3 separate regions of the Homo sapiens genome follow, and regions 1 and 2 are each linked to region 3. The links come from fine-mapping of genetic effects on gene expression. A gene starts in region 3. Each other region holds a variant in brackets. All regions are shown on one strand. Distances are between the middles of the regions.

Evidence for each region. PIP is the estimated chance that this variant, and not a neighbour inherited with it, causes the effect.
Region 1: its variant is the best candidate, but not a certain one, in a credible set for the expression of KL in sigmoid colon (GTEx, PIP 0.83).
Region 2: its variant is the best candidate, but not a certain one, in a credible set for the expression of KL in blood mononuclear cells (TOPMed, PIP 0.87).

What each region holds. Positions count from the first base shown.
Region 1 is chr13:33,041,391-33,044,156 of GRCh38, forward strand. The region is part of intron 1 of KL (klotho); the gene reads left to right. Among named protein-coding and RNA genes, the nearest start is that of KL, 26 kb to the left of the region's middle. The variant T/G (reference allele first, on the strand shown) is at 1,647.
Region 2 is chr13:33,066,916-33,069,681 of GRCh38, forward strand. No RefSeq gene overlaps it. Among named protein-coding and RNA genes, the nearest start is that of KL, 52 kb to the left of the region's middle. The variant A/T (reference allele first, on the strand shown) is at 1,624.
Region 3 is chr13:33,015,015-33,017,780 of GRCh38, forward strand. It overlaps KL (klotho), which reads left to right and starts at 1,409. Exons shown (of 5, transcript NM_004795.4): 1 at 1,409-2,245. The coding sequence starts at 1,427. LOC124903151 (translation initiation factor IF-2-like) reads right to left here and starts at 1,439. Exons shown (of 2, transcript XM_047430819.1): 1 at 822-1,439. The coding sequence starts at 1,428. RefSeq lists enhancers at 1,013-1,588, 1,589-2,166, 2,375-2,434 and silencers at 1,445-1,514, 2,205-2,304.

The DNA.
Region 1 (2,766 bases), 26 kb after region 3:
CATTACTTTTTAAATGGCAAAAACTGCAATTACTTTGGCACCAACCTAATACTGTAAGTATCTTTGAACTTACCAATCAAACATTACTACAACACTTGAATAAGAAACACTTCCATAGCATTTACAATTCTAAGTGCTTTCCATGTATTGACTTAGTTAATCCTCACAAGGATATAACCATGAGGTGCTATTACTATCCCTACTTTACAGATGAGGAAATAGAGGCACAGACTTCAGATAATTTGCCCAAGGTCCCACAGCTAATAAGGGGGCAGAATTAGGAAAGCCTGGCTGAGTCTATGCTCTCATCACTTGCTCAACTCTGCCTGGAATGCCCTTCCCGTACCCTCTACCGCCTCTGCCCAATCCTCCGGGTTCTCTGCTCCTTCCACACACCCCCATCTCAGGTCCCAGTCTTTTTTAGCATTCTTCACTTTTTCTGTTACAGATCCTCAGACAATGCTTCCTTGAAGAAGACTTGCCTGTCTAAACTGCCTTCCCATCCCAATCCCTGTTACCTTCTATCCTTTCTCTGCTTTGTTTTCATTTGTTATCTCTCTTCTTCCCAAGAATGTAAGCTCCATAAGAACAGGATCATATTTTGAATCCCCTAGAAAAGTGCCTAGTGTAATATTTGTTGAATGAATATGATCCCTGCAATTAAAAGCTAAATATATATATTTTTTTAACTAACAGATTACTGTAGTAGTTTCAAAGATGAATTTATGTTTCGGAGAAAATCAGTATTCTCTTGCCACATAAATTGTAGGTAATTATATTTCTATACCTGAATAGCTTTGCCAATGACTAAGATATTAATCTATTATATATTTATTAATCTATAGATCTTTAAAATTGATGCACATGTTTTATAAGCAATTTGATGAATTTTGATGACTACATACACCTGTATGTGTATGGATATCTGTAACAAATATCCAAGTAAAGATATAGAATATTCTCATTACCCCAGAAAGTTTCTTTGTGACTTCTAATCAATTCTCACCTCCGTAGGAAACCGCTGTTGTGATTCCCATCACCACAGACTGATTTTGGGACTTTATGTAAATGGAATCAAACAACTCTGTGAATGTACTCTGTGTCTGAGTTCTTTCAATCTACACAATCTTTTTGACATTAATCCATATTACTGCCTAGAAGAGTAGTTCACTCTTTGCATTAATGAATAGTATTCCATTGTATAAACAAACCACACTGTTTATACATTCTCCTGTGAATGGACATTTGTGTTGTTTTCAGTTTTCTGCTATTGCGATTTAAGCTACTATAAGCATTTTTTTTTAATTGTGATGGGGTTTCGCTCTTGTTCCCCAGGCTGGAGTGCAGTGGCAGCGATCTCAGCTCACTGCAGCTTCTGCCACGTGGGTCCAAGCGATTCTCCTGCCTCAGCCTCCCGAGTACCTGGGATTACAGGCATGTGCCACCACACCTGGCTAAGTTTCGTATTTTCAGTAGAGACGGGGTTTCACCATGTTGGTCAGGCTGGTCTCGAAGTCCTGACCTCAGGTGATCCACCCACCTCGGCCTCCCAAAGTGCTGGGATTACAGTCTTGAGCCACTGTGCCCGGCCAGCATCTTTGAACATATCAATTTGTAAGTTTTATCTTAATATTGTACAAGTCTTT[T/G]GGGGGGCTTATGTTGTCATTTCTCTTGGTAAATACCTAGGTATGAACTTGCTAGATTATAGAGAAAATCTATCTTTAATTTTATAAGAAACTGTCAAATAGTTTTCCAAAGTGGTGGTACTATTTATACTCCCACCATCAATGTATGAAATTTCCGTTGTTTTACGTCCTTGCCAGAATTTGTTGGTAGTCTTTTTTTTTTTTTGAGGCAGCATCTCACTGTGTTGCCCAGGCATACAATGGTGTGATCTCGGCTCACTGCAACCTCTGCCTCCCAGGTTCAAGGGATTTTCATGCCTCAGCATCCCAAGCAGCTGGGACTACAGAGGCGTGCCACCACACCCAGCTAATTTTTGTATTTTTAGTAGAGATGGGGTTTCACCATGTTGCCCAAGTTGGTCTCGAACTCCTGGCTTCAAGTGATTCGCCCGCCTCAGCCTCCCAAATTGCTGGGATTATAGGCGTGAGTCACTGTACCCAGCCTGTTGCCAGTATTTTTAGTTGTAGGCATCTTAGTGGGTGTGAGTGCTCGTTGGGGTTTTAATTTGCATTTTCCTGATAGTGTTGATGTTGAGGACATTTCTATGTGTTTACTGAGCATTGGTGAAGATTCTCTTGTGAAATATCTATTCAAATATTTTGCTCATGGTGGGAAGGGGAGTTATTTTTCTTTTACTACTGATAGGTAGGCTTACGTATTTATTTCGGATATAATTATTTTGTCAATTATATACTAATCATAAACAAAAACTGATAAATTGGACGACGTCAAAATTAAAACCTGCTCATCAAATGTTAGCGAAATGTAAAGGCAAATCACATACTGAGGGGAGATATTTTAATATATGTATATTTATATAGTGCTTTCTGTGTTCTAAGAAGTATTTTCCTACTCCAAGATAAAGAGACTATTCTCTTACATTTTGTTCTATAAGTTTTATAGTTTTAGCTTTTAGCTTTGGATCTATGATCTGTCTCAAATTTTTATGCAAGATTGGGGTTTAATTTTTTCATACACTTTTCCAGTTGTCAAGGATCATTTGTTGAAACGTCTTTCCTGTTGCCACATAATTGCTTTGATGCATTCGTTAGAAATCAGTTGGCTGTGGGTTTATTTTGG
Region 2 (2,766 bases), 52 kb after region 3:
CACAGTCAATACTTAGAATCTGACTTGGTCCTGTTGGCTCATGCCTGTAATCCCCACACTTTGGGAGGCCAAGGCAGGAGGATCAATTGAGGCTAGAAATTTGAGACCAGCCTGGGCAACATAGTGAGACCCGTCTCTACAAAAACTTCTAAAAATTAGCCGGGCGTGGTGCTGTGCACCTGTAGTCCCAGCTACTCGGGAGGTTGAGGTGGGAGGATCACTTGAACTCAGGAGGTTGAGGCTGCAGTGAACTATGTTCATGCCATTGCACTCCAACTTGGGCAACAGAATGAGACCTGTCTCTGAAATAATAACAAGAAGACTCTATTAGAGCCTTGGAAGTTTTCCATTAAATTATTTATGATAGTGCTGTTCAACAGATACAAGCAAGCCATGTATTTCATTTTAAATTTTCTAGTAGTCATATTAAAAAATAAAAAGGCATAGAAGAGATAAATTTTAATAATATATTTTATTCTTTCCAGTATATCCAAAATATTGTATTTTCAACTTGTAATTGATATAAACATTATTGAGATATTTCACATTTTTTTTGGTACTAAGTAATTTTGGTACTAAGTAATTAGATTGGTCTATAGCATATTTGTTTAATATTTAATATTGAGCAATGCTGCTGGAAATTTGCACTTGGAAAGGAACATGTTAATTTGGAGCATGTTGGCCATCCTGGATGGGAGGACCTCGGTTCTAGAGGGGAAGGCAGAGGCCATGTCTTGTCTGGTATATTTTTTACAGTGTTTAGCGCAGTATCTCTTACATGATATTGTTCAACAAATGTTGATTAATTGAATACATGACGGAATAAATGATAAGCAGAATTAGCTCACTGCCATCACCTGTGCCCAGAGACTGGTTTAATAGAGATCACCTGTCAGCCAGCAATGACGATGTGTTAGATGCCACACAGCTCCATCCTATATATTCAGAGGAAGGAATGATAACCTGTCTTACTAGGTAGAGAGGCAGTAAAACTTACTGCTGTCCTAAATTGTTGCCTCCAGACAAATCACTAAGTGAAAGGTTGTAACTTTTTGTCTTCCTTATCCACATGTCTTTCAACTAGTCAGTAATCTTTCTCTCTCAGGCTGAGTTCTTTATCTGTAAACAAAAACAGTATTTTAGAGGAACCCTTTATGTCATCTCCAAATACTTAGTTTCCTAGAATGTGTAGCTTTTCCCCTCAGACCCATTGCATTTTTCCATTTTTATAACCACTAAATATTGTTGGAGTTTTGCTGGTTGTAGGACATTTCCTGGAACTTGTTTTTTCCATATCTTTGTGGTTAAACACCCATTGTCTGATATCAAGGAGAAAGAGGTCCAGAAAACCCACAGGGAACCTTGAGCAAAGGGTGGAAATGCCACTAATAATGGTGACAGGACACCTACAATATGGTGAAATCTTGTTTTACATGATTTCTGCATACCAGAAAAGACTTGGTGACTACTACTCAAGTCCCCCGACCTCTGCTTTTTTTTTTTTTTTTTTTTTTTTTTTTTTTTTTTTACCCATTGGGTTAGAGAAGAAAACAATTTCAACCTACATATTATTGAGATAAAAAGGCAGAGAAAGAAGAACAAGACCAGGCTCAAAATGACCTT[A/T]CAGTTGGGTAGTTTTGGGTAACGCAATCCTTGGTGAACTTCAGTTTCCTCATCTTTGAAATGGGAGTGTCTATCTTAGCACAGTGCTGAACATAGGAAATATTCAATACCTTGGGTATCTACCCCAGACGTTATTTTTTTCCTAGACTCATACAACTTACCCTTAATGTGCATGTGATTTCTTGTTAATCAGATATTTTGAGCTCAATAATGTAAAACTAGGGACTATTACAGTCAAAATGATTCATCCTGAAGCCTTCTAGTTATTTTATTTGTGACTTTGAATATACATTTTCATAGAATACCCTTGGTAAAACTAAATTTAGAAAAACGAAGCCCCACATTTACTTAATAATACCAAATTACCTTCTTGGATTCAAATTTTACAAATGTTGGATTGATAGAATTCTGAAGATAATTTGGCAGCAGATATTTCTGTATCAATATGTTGAACCATCTGCTCTTTTGAAATAATCTAATGACACAGACAAAACATTAAAATGTGTATATTTGTTATTTGGTTGGTAAATAATTGAAGGCTCATTAATTTTTATGAGATTCAAAAATCTCTGGTAGACTTTCTGATTTTAGTATAATTTTTCAATATGTTTACTTTATGGTAAAATGAATTAATGTTAAGTGACCTAATTTATTTTGTATACATTATCTTCAACGGAAACATTATTCCTTAATAAACTGCTGGAATAGACTGACCTTTTTTTCTGTTTAAAATCTCAATTGATCAGTTTATAAAATTCAATTTCCTTTCGATATTATACCAGTTGTTGTCTAATTATGGCTGTGACCATAAATTTTGCCTAAGACATTTCAGTTGGTTTTCCATGTGAATCAAAGCTTTGGATAATTTATATCCAACATGTTAGATGGCAAATTCAATAGTGTTCCAAGGTCACAGTATTGCATTTAAGGCATATTGGTTTTATAACCATATTTTTTCCCCTTTAAATTATGAGAACCACGAGTCTCTGGTAAGTAGCCCCAAGGCTTCAAAATACAACATTTCAATCAACAGGGGGCAGTAGTGGTAAGCCAGAGAGGACACAACAGAGATATAATTAGAGGAAGATGGATGGGTCAGATAGAGATATTTTATTAGTAAAAGACGAGATGAGATTGAACCAA
Region 3 (2,766 bases):
TCTGTGAGGATCTTGGTCATTCAACACACGTGTACGGGTGAGGAAACTAAGGCACGACTTACTGGGTAGGGAGGTAGGGATATTAGCAAGATCCTTCACTTGTCTGGGCTTTCTGTCTTTGAGTCACCTTTGCGCAGTTTTTCACTGGACTTCACAAGCCTCTGAGGCGGCAGGGCAGACAGGACATCCTTATTTTATAGAGGAGGAAACTTAGGCTTACAGAGGTTTCCTGCCCCAAATCACAAAGGTGGAGCCTAGACCTTCTCAGTCTCCACCAACTGTATTTCGGTTAGCCACAATCCTATCTACCCACATCCAAATGGACACTGTGGCTCTGCAACTTCTGTCAAAAGGGCTCTTTGGCAACAGGAAAAACGTCATGGCTCCATTGTATTGTAGAGGATGGGAATGGGTGTTCCGGCTAAATTCTCCCTCCCCTTTCCCTCCACAGCTCAGATGGCAAATGTGCGACCCAGGGACCTCCCGCTCCAGCAGACCTGTGCGCACAACTTTGCACAGATTACCTGCTAAGTCAGAGCCGAAAGGTAACACAGATGCCAAAGGATAATAAAGGTGAATGAGATTTACTCAAAATTGGAAACTTGGTGTTTGGTTTTTCAGGAGAACAATCAACGACTGTGATTTGAAGTTCACCAGGGTATTCTGAGAGATCTAATCAAAGATAGAGTGCTGGTTTGAAATTATTAAAAGGTAACAGTAAAAGGGAGAGCAAAACCCCAGTCCCAACGCAACCCATAAATCTACTTTGTCTTCCTCGAAAGAGGGGCGCGGGTGGGCGCGTCTCCCCGCGAGCATCTCACCTAAGGGGGAATCCCTTTCAGCGCACGGCGAAGTTCCCCCTCGGCTGTCCCACCTGGCAGTCCCTCTAGGATTTCGGCCAGTCCCTAATTGGCTCCAGCAATGTCCAGCCGGAGCTTCTTTGGGCCTCCGAGTGGGAGAAAAGTGAGAGCAGGTGCTTCCCCAGCGGCGCGCTCCGCTAGGGCCCGGCAGGATCCCGCCCCCAAGTCGGGGAAAGTTGGTCGGCGCCTTTTCTCCCCGACGAAGCCGCTCCAGGGCTGCTCTCAGAGGACGCGCGGCAGGCAAAGAGAATGAACCTGAGCGTCCACGAAACGTCCTGCACGGCTCCCGGGAGCTGGGAGAAACAGGTGCCTTTCTCCGACGTCCGCGGGCGACGCCTGCCGCACCTTGCCCGCTGCCGCGCCCCTCCCGGGCACCCCTCGCCCTCGGCGCCCCTGCCCCCGCCCCCAGTGCCAGGGCGGAGGCAGTCCCGGCTCGCAGGTAATTATTGCCAGCGGAGCCCGCCGGGGAGCGGGGGTGGGCGCGCCGGCGGTGGGCGGGCGGGCGCGGCGGGGCGCGGGCATAAAGGGGCGCGGCGCGGGGCCCCGGAGCCTGGCTCCCGCGCAGCATGCCCGCCAGCGCCCCGCCGCGCCGCCCGCGGCCGCCGCCGCCGTCGCTGTCGCTGCTGCTGGTGCTGCTGGGCCTGGGCGGCCGCCGCCTGCGTGCGGAGCCGGGCGACGGCGCGCAGACCTGGGCCCGTTTCTCGCGGCCTCCTGCCCCCGAGGCCGCGGGCCTCTTCCAGGGCACCTTCCCCGACGGCTTCCTCTGGGCCGTGGGCAGCGCCGCCTACCAGACCGAGGGCGGCTGGCAGCAGCACGGCAAGGGTGCGTCCATCTGGGATACGTTCACCCACCACCCCCTGGCACCCCCGGGAGACTCCCGGAACGCCAGTCTGCCGTTGGGCGCCCCGTCGCCGCTGCAGCCCGCCACCGGGGACGTAGCCAGCGACAGCTACAACAACGTCTTCCGCGACACGGAGGCGCTGCGCGAGCTCGGGGTCACTCACTACCGCTTCTCCATCTCGTGGGCGCGAGTGCTCCCCAATGGCAGCGCGGGCGTCCCCAACCGCGAGGGGCTGCGCTACTACCGGCGCCTGCTGGAGCGGCTGCGGGAGCTGGGCGTGCAGCCCGTGGTCACCCTGTACCACTGGGACCTGCCCCAGCGCCTGCAGGACGCCTACGGCGGCTGGGCCAACCGCGCCCTGGCCGACCACTTCAGGGATTACGCGGAGCTCTGCTTCCGCCACTTCGGCGGTCAGGTCAAGTACTGGATCACCATCGACAACCCCTACGTGGTGGCCTGGCACGGCTACGCCACCGGGCGCCTGGCCCCCGGCATCCGGGGCAGCCCGCGGCTCGGGTACCTGGTGGCGCACAACCTCCTCCTGGTGAGTGCGAGGGGCCAGGCGGAGGGCCACGCAGGGGAGACAGAGGGCCTCCACAGGGGCCAGGGGGAAGTGTGGGAACTGAGTCTCCCCCAGACGAGGCTTCACTTGGACACGTGTATGTGGTCACCGGGGGAAACTGAGCAGTTCTGACTTCCCTTGGAAGGCGTGGAATTAGGAGAGAAATCCCTTAGTGGGCACACGAGTGAGTGCCCCTTGGAGTCCATCTGTGGAAAGGAAGCGGTGATAGGTTTCCGCAGTGAGGAAAGAAACTCCTTTCTCTGGGTGTAGAGGAATTCCTAGAGGTGAGGGCGGGGAGGATTTGCTAGGAGTAACTGCAGGAAGAGAATGAGCAGGGTGGATGAAAGAAACACGTTTGTTCTTAAGCCGCACAGATAGCATTACTCTCTGGAGCTGTCACGAGTTCAGTGTTAATCCAATAAGATCTGTCTTGCTTGTGGCACAAGTTCACACTGTTGTGAAAGTGTCAAAACACAACTCCCGGAGAGTCAGATTTAAACTGT